Homo sapiens: one gene and its partner. The protein of the gene in region 2 purifies or fractionates together with the protein of the main gene of each other region. This does not show direct contact. Each region holds a gene or a part of one and is shown on either strand. Other genes may lie near its edges.

Region 1 (4,325 bases), on a different chromosome or scaffold from region 2:
TGAAAGTTTTTTCCGTGGATCTCATGTAACCCTATGTCTTAAAAGGAAAATGTACAATCTGACATTGTTCAATGAAACTCCAATTCTTTAGCACAGAGGATGGTTTTTTTTTCCCGGAGAAGTAATGATTTTGTGACTGCATGAAATGTAAGCTGACACCGATTGTTTGCCCAGCACACGCGAGCTCTTTGAGAGTGGATCCAGAGAAAATGAGGCAGGGTGAAAAGGCAGAGCAGTGGGTGGGGAAATCAGTGGTGTCATATGGGCCTTCTTTTCAATTTGGATCTGAAGCCCAAACTCCTGCTTGAAATTCCTAGAATTTGGAATTTTATATTGTTCAAAAATTTGATTTTGCGTTTTGGTACGTGTATCCCAAGTGTCTTGACACAGACACATATCACACATTAAAGAGGTGGAAACACAGAAATCTTGTAACAAGGCATTTATTTGGGATGAGGAAAGGAAATTGAGCAGAAGGTACAGGAGTAATAGCAATTCCCTGTAGCTCTCAAAGCAAATTTTGAGCTCATTTTTCTTTTTCTGCAAGCTCAGCAGCAGAATGCCCAGAGTCTTCCCTGGTAGATGCAGGTTCCATAGCGACGTTCTCCTGCAATGCACGCTGGTATTCTGCAATAGCAGGCCATGTTTTTCCTTGAGCCTGGGACAGGGAGAGCATGAGAAATTGAGTATGGAGTTAGCAGTGGGTAAGAAAAAGAATCTCGGGGAAGTCACATGCTAGCTGACAGGTGATGCTGGCTGCATTGCAGCCGTTAGCACGAACAACCTCAGTCGATAGGAATAAACACGCAGAGCAGTGCTTGTCACTCAGAATTTGAGACTCATTCTCCTTTGCTCTCATTTTTGCATTCCTGCCCCATCACACACACACCTGAACATATCCTCAGGCTTGGCTGCAGTTTTTAAAAGCTCTTCTGTAGATAGAGTAAAATGTTCTCTTTACAACTAAGTCTACTTGTTTAGATCCAGAAATAACTAGTCTGTCTCTTCATATCTGAAACTTAGTGAATTTCACAGACGTTTCTTGGAATCAAGTCTTTGGAGAAATAAAGTTTCTCATGTTTATTTGGCTCTCTGTTCAATTTCTAGATGAGAAAATCAATGCCCAGAGATTCTAAGTGAAGCCACCTCAGTGACATAGACTGCTGAGACCCAACTCTGGAACCTCTCTCCCGTCCTTCCCTCTAGACTTAGCAGCTCTGCATGCCTGCCTCTCTCACCTGGATGCTTTGGAGCCAAGCTTTCGTCCCATGCAAGGGAAACAACCACTTCTGGGATGTCCGCTGCAATCTGCTCCGGGGCTGCAGCAACCTCATCAGCTCTTGCCTGGAGTGGCTCAGCCTGGGCCTGCAGGGCCACCAGGAGAATGGCAGCAAGGATGGCGAGGGTCCTCATGGCTGGGGTCACCTGGAGGAGGGAGAGCAGGAGCAGCTGTGTGGGGAGGGAGGAGCCAGCCTGGATTTATAGCTCTACTGGGAGAAGGCTCGGAGACAAGAAACCTTCCTCAATCTCAGTGAGAGGAGGTGTGCATTTTATAAGAGAGGCCCATTGGTCTCAAGGTTGCTCGAATGCTCCTGTTCTCCCAGTTTCATGCTAGTATACATCTGTACCTTTAATGTCTGTGCTAGGTTGGAGCTAATAATGACAAGAAAGACCCTGCTATGTTACTCGTGGGTTCACCTGCTTAAATATTATGATTCACTTTTTAACATTCCAAAAAGAATAGAAATTGCACTTTGATTCAACAGGCTCAGGGAACAAATGCTTCTTATTTTCTGAAGATGGGTCCTGCTGTTCTCTGGAGGTCTAGATTCTGGTGTCCTATATGAGTTCCAATGGAATAGCGAGTAATTCACTTCAGGATTCAGGTGACTTACCATCCTCATGAAGAGGTTTTTGAGGTTATGGGGTGAGTAGTCTCCTGTAGGAATCAGGGTGGAGAGGACAATGATTTTATCAGGCTAAAGGTGAAATCAGCTCAGTGACACAGAGTGGTTTAAGTAAAAAAAAGAAAGTTTATTATTTCCACCTCTACTTAGACTTGAGTAACAATTAACAATTGTATATTTATAGTGTACACTACCTCATGATTTTATATATGTATGTATTTAAATCTTTATCTCACACCATGTAGAAACATCAACTCAGAATGAATTGAAAACCTAAATGTAACAACTGAAACCATAAACTACTAGAAGTGTATAGAAGGATAAAGCTTTTGACATTGATGTAGGTAATGATTTCTTGGCTATGACACCAAAGGCACAGGCAATAAAAGGGAAAATAGACAAGTGTGGCTTCATTTAACGCTAAAGCATCTGCACAGCAAAGGAAACAATCAACCGAGTGAAAAGATAACCCAGAAAATGAGAGAAAATATTTGCAAAACCTACATGGCCGAAGGGGCAAATATCTGAATACATAAGGAATTCCAACAACTCAATAGCAAAAATCAAACAACCTGATTGAAAAACAGACCAAGGACCTAAATAGGTTTCTCTCAAAAGAATGTTCCAAAGACCTGTGATAGTCTCTACTGGACATGTCAACCAGGACATGTGTGTTTAGAAGGAAACTGCTTGAGTTTCTCTATTAAGTTAGCTGGAAGCCATCGTCCCCAGCAGTCACCAGAGGTCCGGACAGACGTTCCTAGCAGGGATTCGCCCGCTGGTTCCCTCTGGGGTGGCCCCACAGTCAGAGGTCAGATTGGAGGCATAGCTTCAATAATGAAAACTCAGTGTAAAGTTTAAGTTTTGTAGTACTTACAGATCCTCTAGCTAGGCAGGGTGACCAGAGAGGGCAGACAGCAGTCCTCTGTCCCAGGTCTTCTATAGCAAGGAGCAGCCGTGCACAAGTGGACTTCCCCTATTTAAAGGTCTTTTGGGATGAGGTGTCCTAATTTCCGGGGTTACTTTCTGTTGGGTCCATTAAATAATTGTGGTGGCAAGGACAGTTGAGAAATTTGGTGGGAAGGTGAGGTTAAAGTAGAACTCCACAGAGGAACCTCTCATCTACCTTGGTCAGCCCTGGCCAGGCCCAGGCAGCAACCAACTATGGATTCTCAATGGCTCCTAACACAGTTGACCCTGTGATGCATTGGCTGTGGCTAAGCTGAACTACCTGCACCAAGGGAATATTTAAAGCCTCTGGGACAGCCTGGCTGCGTATCATAGTATACACCCTGCAAAGAGATTGGGATAGGAATGCCACCTACACACAGAGGAGGATTTGGAATGTGTTTCTAAAGCAGTGTCCCGAGGACCTGGGGTCTAACCATAAAAAGCAATGAAAGCCATTTGGCTGAGCTGGGATGTTGGAGAACACCCAGGTGAGAATGAGTGCTACCTGGGCTTCTGTTGCTATGTGGAACAGACATTTTTGGGTTCTCCTGAGTACTGGATGTACACGCGGCATGTGGTTCCCCAGAGGTGACTATCACCTGTTTGCTTGGCCAATGAACAGTTTAAGCTTAAACAATTGTCTAGGATCATCTGGGCCAAGAACTGGTCTGAGGCATTAGCCATCAGGGTGGGAGTGGCCTTTCCAGATGGCCACCCAAGAAAGGAGGTGGGAGTCTGGGCATTCACTTTACTGCTGGTGTTGCACAGCCTCTCAGGCCTTGTGGGCCTTCAGAGAAGCATTCAGCAAAAGCTTGAGTGGTGCTTTCTGGGAGGCATAGGAGTTTCCATCCTTCACTGGTACACATCGGAGAACAGGTGTATCCCTGAGCCCATGATCATGTCTGGATGCTTTCTGTGAATGCAATGCTCCAACTCTTCAGGCTGCAGTCTGGGTGTGTGCTGCGGCGTCATGAGCCCATTTGGATTGAAGCCTGTGCATCCAGAGAACTACCTCCTCATCCTTAAAACACGATCTGTGGTTGTGAGGGCTGCTGGTGTTTAAGCATTGGTGCCATGGGACCCATTCAATATCTAAGGGTTGAGTTGCCCGCCTTGGACACAGGTCAGGTTGTATCTGGGGTGCAGCCCCTGTAACAGGGCTTACAGGGAATTCCCCAGTTTTCCAGTCTGGGGTACAAATTCTGACTAGGGCTGTCCTGTTCCAGCAGCCCTCTAGGCTGCCAGGCCTGGGTTAAACAGCTACCCCACAAGCCATTTGTACATAAGATACCAAGCAAGGCCAATCATAGAGAACACTGACATCTTGTCACTCAGGGCTTTCTTCCCAGTGCTTCTATATTGACACTGATGATGGGGTTGGCTGGCACCCACTTTTCCTTGGAGCCTTTCTCCCCCATGGCCACGTTTGGTGATGGCACTTCCATATGGTCTTTGCCTGACGTAGTT
Region 2 (3,816 bases):
TCCCTGAGAAAGAGAGAAAACCCATCCTTCTGTTGAGGAACAGTGCCCATAGTTTTCCTCCTAGAGGGCCTGAACCAGAGGCTTCTACAGTATCATCCCCACTGCATGAGCTGGCAGAGATCCCGAGGCTCAGAAACCAGGAGTGACTTGCCTCTTCTGGAAAGTTATTACAACAGATAATCATTTGAAAAGCCAATGATGTGTTTGTCCTACAGCTGTAGTCAAAGTACTGCCAATTATATTTGTTGCTCATGGTCACCTTTCTGGGACTCCACATGCAAAAGGGCCTTTAGGATTCCATGCTAAGAGACCATTCATCTCCTTTGGAAGACTAGTTTAGATCCTAAAATTAGACCTATGAAACTTCTAGCATGCTTCCTCTTTTCACTCTGGCTGCCAGGAAGCTGAGTTTGATGCTCAAACATAATAACCGTAAAAATGTTCATATCGACACACAGGCTTCCTCTTTATTTCCTCCAATGGCTGCGATTTTTCTCTTACGTATATTCTTTTGTTTGTAAACTTATCTAAATGGTTCTTTCAAAAAGAGGTAGGGAATCATATGTGCTCTACACATGCTTGGGTTTATAATTTATGGAAGGTGGCAGGCCTGGTGGCTCACGCCTGTAATCCCAGCACTTTGGGAGGCTGAGGTGGGTGGATTGCTTGAGTCCAGGAGGTTGAGACCAACCTGGGCAACATGGTAAAACCCCATCTCTACAAAAATTACAGAAAAATTAGCCAGGTATAGTGGTACATGCCTGTAGTCCCAACTACTAGGGAGGCTGAGGTGGGATGATTGCTTAAACCTGGGAGGTGAAGGTTGCAGTGAACTGAGATCATGCCATAGCACTCAGCCTAGGTGACAGAGTGAAACCCCATCTTAAAAACAAAAAAAGGCCAGGTGCAGTGGCTCATGCCTGTAATCCAAGTACTTTGGGAGGCAAGGTGGGTGGATCACTTGAGGTCAGGAGTTTGAGACCAGCCTGGCCAACAGGTGAAATCCTATCTCTACTAAAAATACAAAAATTAGCTGGGCGTGATGGTAGAAGCCTGTAATCCCAGCTACTCGGAGGCTGAGGCACAAGAATCACTTGAACCTGGGAGGCGGAGGTTACCGTGAGCAGAGATTGTGCCACTGCATTCCAGCCTGAGTGATAGAATGAGACTCTATCTAAAAAAAGGCCAAAATTATAATTTATGGAAGGAATAGATTTCAGGCGTCTGTGCTCCCCACTTCCACTTGTTCAGGGCCCCGTTATAGACCTGGGTGGGATGGATCCATAGCAAGGTGATCTCCTAGGACACGGTGGTGGGACCATCTGTCCCCAGCTGTTTCTATTACCAAGAGTCTTTCCAGGCTGAGGGAGTGGGTCTGGGGGCCACACCCCTCAACCAGAAGGTGTGGGCCTGAGCAAGAAGATGACATGTGACAGAGGCTCAGATGGCTGAGCCAGGAGCTGCATAGAGCAAGAAGACCTAGGCTGCTGGGGCCTCTAGGAGCAGGGTGGGGGCCCCTTTGGAGCCCACCCCAGGAGGCTGGGCAGTTGCTCTTCTTTGGGTACCTCTGGGCTTCTCCATTCCATTTCTTGTTAGCTCCATAATGGGGCTAGGGAGGGGACATGACTCTTTGCTCCAGATGCCTCTAGGGCCAGAAGGCTTGCCCCATCCATTTGGTTGGCCCTCTCTGATCTTTTTGGGAAATTGCCACTTGTGAGGTTCTGCGGGGAGTGGATCTCTCTAGCACTGTTGTGCCTTGGTGAGTTGTAAACATTGGATAAGGTTAGTCGATTCGTCCAATTATGAGAACATGCTGCACATGAAGGCAAGGTCAGGAGTTGAACCTATAGGGGCATCGCATCTCTCCAAGGCCACAGCCTCTCTGGCCTATTACAACCTTCGTCACAGGGGCAGCAGGGAAGAGGGCAGCCTGAGCCTCACAAGTGGCTAAGTGCCCCTTTGCACATAGAGGCCAGCCCCATGGTCTTAAAGGGTACTATCCACATTCCACTCCCTGCTCTGCAGGCTCCCTCCCTCCCCAAATGCCATACTCAGCCTTTGCTCCGGGAACAGCTTGATTGAGGAATGCATTCGTGTCATTGGCATCACCCGTGCCCACGGCGTAGCCTGTGAGGTTTCTGTTAAACTCCCGAAGGATATCTGGAAGAGAAGGTGAATGGGATGCAGACGGCTCAGAACAGAAAGCCAGAATAGCTTCTCTGGTACTGTGGGACCTAGGTCCCCAAAGTGGGCTGTGTTATCATCCTCATGCTTCCTGGGGAGAGGCAGGGAGGCAGTGTGTGTCCTGGACATAAGCTGGGACCACCCTAAGTTGACATGACCTGATGACTAGGTGGGCCAGGGTGGCAAGAGCCTCTCACTCTTGTATTAAATTGTATTAATACAATTCACAGTGCATTGAAGGGTCACTACCTAATTTGTCTCAGCACCTCCTGGGCCTGTTGGAAAAGCCTGAGGCTAAAAATAGCGGGTAACTTGCCCTAGGTCACCTGACAAGCACATCGGAGATTGAACCCAGCACCAGGGATTGAAGCACCAGGGATTGAACTCAGATCTTCAGGCTCTAAATCTGGTGTTTATTTTACCTGCCTCGGCTGCTTTTTCATAGCCTCCTGTCTCCTACTTAAATGCTGGGCCATAAGGCAGATGTCATTTGCTGCTTACCTGGGAGGCACTTTCGGGAAGCCAAGGGGCCAGATGGGTGGAACAGTAGACAGATTCAAGCCCCTGATGGTTACTTACTAGGTAAGGTGGTCACATTCTCCAGGGAGCCGTCCCCTCCTGCACTGTAGGGAGTGAGCAAGCCAGTGAATGAGAGGGAGAGACATATTGGTTGAATCAATCTAGGAACTTTACACAAGAGCAGCCCCCACCCTTCTTAGTGCCCATCGGCACCTTTGAGATGGGCCAGACCCATCTCTGAGTTTGAGGAATTCTGAGAAAATTTTTAAGCCCCTAACATATTGGTTCCCTACCGAATCCAGGATTTGAAGATGAGAGAGCTGTTTCTTTACCAGATCAGGAGGGAGAATGCTTAGCTGAGTATATACTATGTGCCCAGACATGCACTAGATTCTGTGATTTCACATCTCCCAACAAGCCAGTGATGTAGATGTGACTATGTCCATTTTACAGAGTAAGAAAATGAGGTGCACAGAGGTTAATTAACTTGTTAAAAGTCATTGAAACCCAATTTGAGCTGGAAGCCTTTGGAAAATAGATAAGCTCTTCTCTGCTCAGCAGTCAGGTAAATTCCAATAGAAGGTTCAGAAGGGTGGCTGCTCACTACCTTTCAATGCCCCATCTAATTTTCATTTAATCTAACTTCAAGGTACACCCTATTTTGTTTCCTTTTATGCATTTATTAATAAATTGAGTAGGACACACAGAAGACAAGTACTATTTCTATTTTACCAAAATCTGATATTCATATATATGGTATTTACTGTTCTTTTTCTTCTGTGTCTCTTTTTCGAATCCCAGCATGTTATATTCCAGGTCAATGGATTTTTTTTTTTTTTTTTTTCGAGACGGAGTCTTGCTCTGTCGCCCAGGCTGGAGTGCAGTGGTGTGATCTCCACTCAATGCAAGCTCCGCCTCCCGGGTTCATGCCATTCTCCTGCCTCAGCCTCCCGAGTAGCTGGGACTACAGGTACCCGCCACCATGCCCAGCTAATTTTTTCTGTTTTTTAGTAGAGATGGGGTTCCACCGTGTTAGCCAGGATGGTCTCGATCTCCTGACCTCATGATTCGCCCGCCTCAGCCTCCCAAAGTGCTGGGATTACAGGCGTGAGC

Evidence for each region.
Region 1: the proteins of PLB1 (region 2) and DEFA1B purify together in Homo sapiens (affinity purification with mass spectrometry, with the first as the bait; one large-scale study listed by BioGRID). This does not show direct contact.

Annotation. Positions count from the first base shown.
Region 1 is NC_000008.11:6,996,339-7,000,663, forward strand, and holds DEFA1B (neutrophil defensin 1 isoform 2 preproprotein), read right to left. Parts: upstream 2,861-4,325; 5' UTR 2,785-2,860; intron 1,940-2,784; exon of another isoform or gene 1,905-1,939; coding exon of another isoform or gene 1,896-1,904; intron 1,426-1,895; coding exon of another isoform or gene 1,414-1,425; coding exon 1,239-1,413; exon of another isoform or gene 1,108-1,238; intron 659-1,107; coding exon 549-658; 3' UTR 428-548; downstream 1-427.
Region 2 is NC_000002.12:28,596,996-28,600,811, reverse strand, and holds part of PLB1 (phospholipase B1, membrane-associated isoform 1 precursor), read right to left. Parts: intron 2,808-3,816; coding exon 2,764-2,807; intron 2,161-2,763; coding exon 2,052-2,160; intron 4-2,051; coding exon 1-3. UniProt on the Homo sapiens protein: Calcium-independent membrane-associated phospholipase that catalyzes complete diacylation of phospholipids by hydrolyzing both sn-1 and sn-2 fatty acyl chains attached to the glycerol backbone (phospholipase B activity).